2 separate regions of the Homo sapiens genome follow, and region 1 is linked to region 2. The links come from fine-mapping of genetic effects on gene expression. A gene starts in region 2. The other region holds a variant in brackets. All regions are shown on one strand. Distances are between the middles of the regions. Region 1 overlaps AFF1-AS1 (AFF1 antisense RNA 1). Region 2 holds the start of C4orf36 (chromosome 4 open reading frame 36).

Region 1 (2,913 bases), 39 kb before region 2:
CCTTACAAGAATTCTTAAATTACATTTTTAGCACACTCAATGAAATTCCAGCACTTTCTTAATTTTGACAACCTAATCTCATACATTTCAGATTATGTTTCTAATAAGATGAAGCATGTTTCTGACATCGGTGCTTTTTTTTTTTTTTAACAGAACCCCCCCACCCCCCCAAATAAATCTCCCTTTTAAATATGATGATGGGACTTTTTAGGTGCTTCTTCATATGAGGGCTCCTGGGATGTTACCTGACAATTTTCAGCCATGATTTTACTTAAAATTTAAAAACAAATTAGTTAAACCCCTGGGACTCATAGAAGCTCACAGGATGTATTCTCAGAGCACCTAAACAGCCCATGAGGAGGGAAGACAACATTAAGATAGAGGCAGGTGAGGAATGTGCCCAGCATCACAACATGGACAACTGTTTGGTCAAACTGAAGTACTTCTAAACTCTGCAGTTGTGCAAGATCCAAGCATTTTAAGCCAGCAGTTTAAATTATGTTCCTCCAAATGACTGCATGTATATCTCAAAGGGCATTAACTTATTCTCGCAAAGTATATAAATAAATCTTTTTTTTTTTTTTTTTTGATATGAAGTTTCACTCTTGTTCCCCAGGCTGGAGTACAATGGCACCATCTCAGCTCGCCGCAACCTCCACCTCCTGGGTTCAAGCGATTCTCCTGCCTCAGCCTCCCGAGTAGCTGGGATTACAGGTATGCGCCACCATGCCCTGCTAATTTTGTATTTTTAGTAGAGACGGGTGTTTCTCCATGTTGGTCAGGCTGGTCTCGAACTCCGGACCTCAGGTTATCTGCCCATCTTCGCCTCCTAAAGTGCTGGGATTACAGGCGTGAGCCACCACGCCCGGAATAAATCTTTTTTTTTTTTTTTTTTCTTTTTGAGACAGAGTCTCGCTCTATTGCCCAGGCTGGAGTGCAATGGTGCAATCTCGGCTCACTGCAAGCTCCGTCTCCCGGGTTCACGCCATTCTCCTGCCTCAGCCTCCTGAGTAGCTGGGACTACAGGCGCCTGCCACCACGCCCGGCCAATTTTTTGTATTTTTAGTAGAGACGGAGTTTCACCATGTTAGACAGGATGGTCTC[A/G]ATCTCCTGACCTCGTGATCCACCCGCCTCGGCCTCCCAAAGTGCTGGGATTACAGGCGTGAGCCACCACACCTGGCGGAACAAATAAATCTTAACCTGAGCATATACTTATGATTAAAAATAGAATAAAATAAGGCCAGGCACTGTGATCACGTTCAGAATCCCAGCACGTTGGGAGGATGAGGCAGGAGGATCACTTGAGCCCAGGACTTCAAGACCAGCCTAGGCAACGTAGTGAGTTCCTGTATCTACAGAAAGCAAAAAAATTAGCTAGGCATGGTTGTGCACAACTGAGGTCCCAGCTACTTCAGGGGCTGAGGTAGGGGGATAACTTGAGCCCTGGAGGTCGAGGATGCGTTGAGGTATGATCATGCCACTGCACTCCAGCCTGGGTGACAGAATGAGACCCCACCTCAAAAACAAAAACAAAAAAATTAAATTAAACAGCCAACCCAGACTCCGGGGAAAGCGGTGTAGATGAGGAGAGGGAGATGCTGGCACTGAGGAGGGATGAAAAAGGAGGAAGGATTAGTCTAAGCCAGGTTAAGGGAAGTAGAGGAAGGGCCAGTTCCCAAAAAAGAACAGAAATCAAGAGGAGGAGCGGGACTTCAAGGCAAAGATTATGAGGGGGGCAGTGATATGAAATAGGACAGGAAAAGTCAACCAGAAACTGATAGTGAAGGGCACTACATGCCAACCTACAAAGCTTTCCTTTCATCCTAAATGCGGTGGGTAGGAGATTGATTTGATCATGTGGCATTTTAGAAAGATTACTGAGACTGCCACATGAAAGTGGATTGGAGACAGTCAGGCTACAATTATAATCCCTAAGGTTATGCAAGAAAATGTACAGAAAGCCAGGTATAGATTGTGGGCAGATAGAGAAATTCTTAGTTATCTGTCTCTATCTGGGAGGCAGATATGCAAATGTGAACTTGCTGTAAGAAGAACCAGGTGCACAATTATTATAATTAAAATAACTGTCTGTATTTTGTGATGAATACTTTGCAGAAAACGTGATTCCTAGTGACCTGACATCACTTTTTCTAACAAATATGAGGTTCATATTGTATGTAAATTTTTCCTCATTGCTACACACTACTCCCCAAATCCAGTGGGGACTGTGAATGCTTTTTAGTCATGTAGTTGTATTGTTCAACTGATTTCACATTTAAAGTAGTAATTTGCAAAATTCCAGTGCAGCTGGAACAAAACACAATGTGAGCACAATAATATTTTTTCATCCCCCAAAACAAATGTAGGGATTTAACTGAGTTTCCACAATTTCCCAGACATTGTACACATATAACTTTATTTAATCTCCTTGAAAATGTGGGTATATTGTCTAGTTCATGAATAAAGAAGTTATAACCTCAGAGAGATATTTCATCTTGATCATGATTACATAACCAATTAAATAGTAGAAGTAGAATTTGAACTCAGCTCTTCCATGGCTGAAGGCCATGTTCTTAACACTATACACAAAATTAGATTAGTATAAGTGTTTCAACTAGTGTCTATCAGTGTGAAATTCACATCAGCAGGCTCAAGGGAGCTGGCAATGGGGTTTTCATGCTGACAGTTATATCTGGAGGACTAAATAAGAAGAGGAAAAGGAAACCTGAATGATTATGGGAAAGTCAAATAGTTGAGAAGTGGGAAGGAAAAGAAATAATAGAGAGGGTTAGACTAGAAAAGCTAAGTAACAGTGCCCCGGTGGAGCAGGATTGGAGGTAAGAGCACCCTAAAGACTATGTCACAACTTCAAGAACTCAGCACTCAATACTTTGTTTCATCCCAACCCACATC
Region 2 (2,913 bases):
AAATACAAAAAAATCAGCTGGGCGTGGTGGCGGGCGCCTGTAGTCCCAGCTACTCGAGAGGCTGAGGCAGGAGAATGGCGTGAACCCGGGAGGCAGAGCTTGCAGTGAGCTGAGATGGCGCCACTGCACTCCAGCCTGGGCGACAGAGCGAGACTCCATCTCAATAAATAAATAAATAAATAAATAAATAAATAAATAAATAAATAAATAAAAATTCAGGCCAAAATCTGTAGTACACTGGTCTCACAGTCCATTGAGGGTTTCAACATTCTTTGTGGAAAGAAAACACCCACTGTCACTCCTCGGTGCTCACTTTTCATTGGTGGTAGAGCAGAAATGCTGAAGAGCGAGTGACAGTCCTCACCTTCCAGTTTCTGGGAGGCACAAAAGCACCTTTGAAAGATGGGTCAGCCCTGCGAGCCTACTCTAATCAGAAGGATCAGAAGTTGCTTGTCAGATGGAAAGGTTACTGTGTTTTATCTTTTTTTTTTTTTTGAGATGGAGTCTCTGTTGCCCAGGCTGGAATGCAGTGGCGCCATCTCGGCTCACTGCAACCTCTGCCTCCCGGGTTCAAGCAATTCTCCTGTCTGAGCCTCCTGAATAGCTGGGACGACAGGCGCGCGCCACCTCGCCCAGCTAATTTTTGCATTTTAGTAGAGACAGGGTTTCACCATGTCGGTTGGCCAGGCTGGTCTCGAACCCCTTGACCTCGTGATCTGCCCCTCTCGGCCTCCCAAATTGCTGGGATTACAGGCGTGAGACACGCGCCCGGCCCATCCACCGTGCCTGGCCCATCTGTGTTTATCTTTAAAAGTTGGCTTTGGAACTTGCCATGTGACTCTGGGCAGCCCTTTAACCACCCTGAACTCATTCGTCGGCTCCACAATTGAAATGAGTAGTATCGCTCTTACCTATTTCATAAAGTTGTTTTTAGGCTCACAATCAATTAGGCATTTATCACGTGGCGGAGAATCTCAGGGCAGGATCTTTCATCCTCAGAACAACCCTCTAAGACATAGAGCATTATCCTTGTTTTATAGATGAAGAAATTGATGCTTAGAGCAGTGACATGCGAAATCTTAAGGTTAAATCTTAAGTGGCAGAGCTAGAATTCCAAACCAGTTCTGACATCAAAACCCTCACTCAAAATGGAAATGTAAGCTCGTTTCATTTGACCGTAAGGGGTGGCCATCTGATGTATTCAAATGAAGAAATACGAAATCACCACAGCGTAATAACGGCTTTAGAAATTGATGCTGTCTTGCTCTGAACACGAACACCTAAAATATCACACGTGGGCTTTGAGCTCACTGCCTTCACCCACTGCAGTGTGAGAACGCTGGCAACAGGGCTTCGGTTCCCCAGATGTCAGCAGCCAGGACTGGGTACATTTCTTTAAATGGCGCCCGCAAACGAAGTCCAGATCGCTTGGATGCAGCCCCCTACATTGGAAAGCGTCCTTCCCAGGAAAGGTCTGGCTTACAGCCCTCTCTGGCTGGTTGGCTGGATTCCGAGAGCGCGGCCTGCCCCGGCCCGGTTACCAGAGAGCGGACCCCGCGGGGCGCGTCTCCCGGGCCCGGCGTCCCCTCCCTGGCGGGTGGGGAGGGCCCCACAAAGCCCTTTGTTGAGGCTCCCGTGTGACGCGAGGAGCCCCAGACTCGGCGCCCGCGGCGAGCGGGAAGGAGGCGTGTGCCTGCGGCGCGGCCCCGAGGCGTGTGCGCGGCCATGTGCGCTTAGCGCAGCGCGCTCTTACCTCAGTACCCCGGCCGCGACCCTCCGAGCCCCTGGAGCCCGGGTAACCAGGCCGCCGGCGCCGGCTCGCGGGGACCCGCCACCCTGGAAGCCCCGCGCACACAGCGCATTCCTGGCGAGTCGGAGGCAGGGTGGGGCCCAGGTGTGGGAAGGAGCCGAGGCTGAGGCCGTTCCCTTCTCCGCGGGCTCTGTGGGCGGCCGAGGCCCCCACCCGTCCCGGGAACCAGTTCCTCCCGGGCCCTGCGCGTCCGTCCGGGGAAGGGTAGGGGACTCGCCCCGAATCGGCGTGCAAGGGCGGGGACGCGGGAGTGGTGCTGAGTGTTTTGAATGAGGGAAAACCTGGGAAGGATTGCTCTGCTCAAAGTGCCCGGGCCGGGGCGGGTGGTTCCTGTGCAGGCAGAGCCTTTGGTCGCTCAGCACTGCCACGATCAGACACATTTTGGCGCAGCGGTGTTGGAGCTGGTTTGGCAGGCTCAGGCAAGGGCAGAGAGTGCGACACCGAAACTTTGTCTCAGGATGACGAAACTTACCTGGCATTTTCTCCTTATTCGGTGGCAAAAAATGAAAAAATGAGTTCATGGAAAAATGAAAGAGAACACGGTTTTACACTTGGGGTTCCAGTTCAATGAACACTTATTAAGGACTTTCTGACATTCAGAATTTTTTTCTATTATTTGGCTACAAAATATTCACGTGAGAGGCATTAATTAGGTGCGTTGCCATCATTTCAGGTAAAGTGAACAGAGTTATCTGTGACATTCCATCAGGCACCTATGTAACGAAATCATACCGTAATAACTCACCATGGCGTATGGAGTGCCAAGAAAGAACACAGTGAAAACCATTTTGCGGGGCAGTTGTTATAATGTGTAAGTACTATTTTTTTTTTTTAAATCAGGGTAAGCATTGACTGCGGTGGGGAGTGTCTTTGTTAAATAAAAGGACTGGACACTCTGTGCTCCCCATGAGATACTGGGCTATGTGAAGTATTTTGAGGTGTCTGGGATCTGATTTTTTTTTTTTTTTTTTTTGGCAACTGCTTTTATAAGTTAATTATCTTACTTGGTCTTTACAACACAACACTTTCAAGTGAGAAAACTGAGGTTCAGAGAAGTTTGATCAAAGTCACAGTCCTGTAGTAAGGAAATGCAAAGGCTAGAC

What was found.
Region 1: its variant is fine-mapped to the expression of C4orf36 in whole blood (TOPMed, PIP above 0.99).

Annotation. Positions count from the first base shown.
Region 1 is chr4:86,930,023-86,932,935 of GRCh38, reverse strand. The region is part of intron 2 of AFF1-AS1 (AFF1 antisense RNA 1); the gene reads left to right. It also overlaps a transcript of C4orf36 not described here. Among named protein-coding and RNA genes, the nearest start is that of AFF1-AS1, 3.4 kb to the left of the region's middle. The variant A/G (reference allele first, on the strand shown) is at 1,105.
Region 2 is chr4:86,891,164-86,894,076 of GRCh38, reverse strand. C4orf36 (chromosome 4 open reading frame 36) reads left to right here and starts at 1,655. Exons shown (of 5, transcript NM_144645.4): 1 at 1,655-1,894; 2 at 2,484-2,621. The coding sequence starts at 2,557. RefSeq lists an enhancer at 1,258-1,913 and silencers at 1,434-1,973, 2,184-2,243.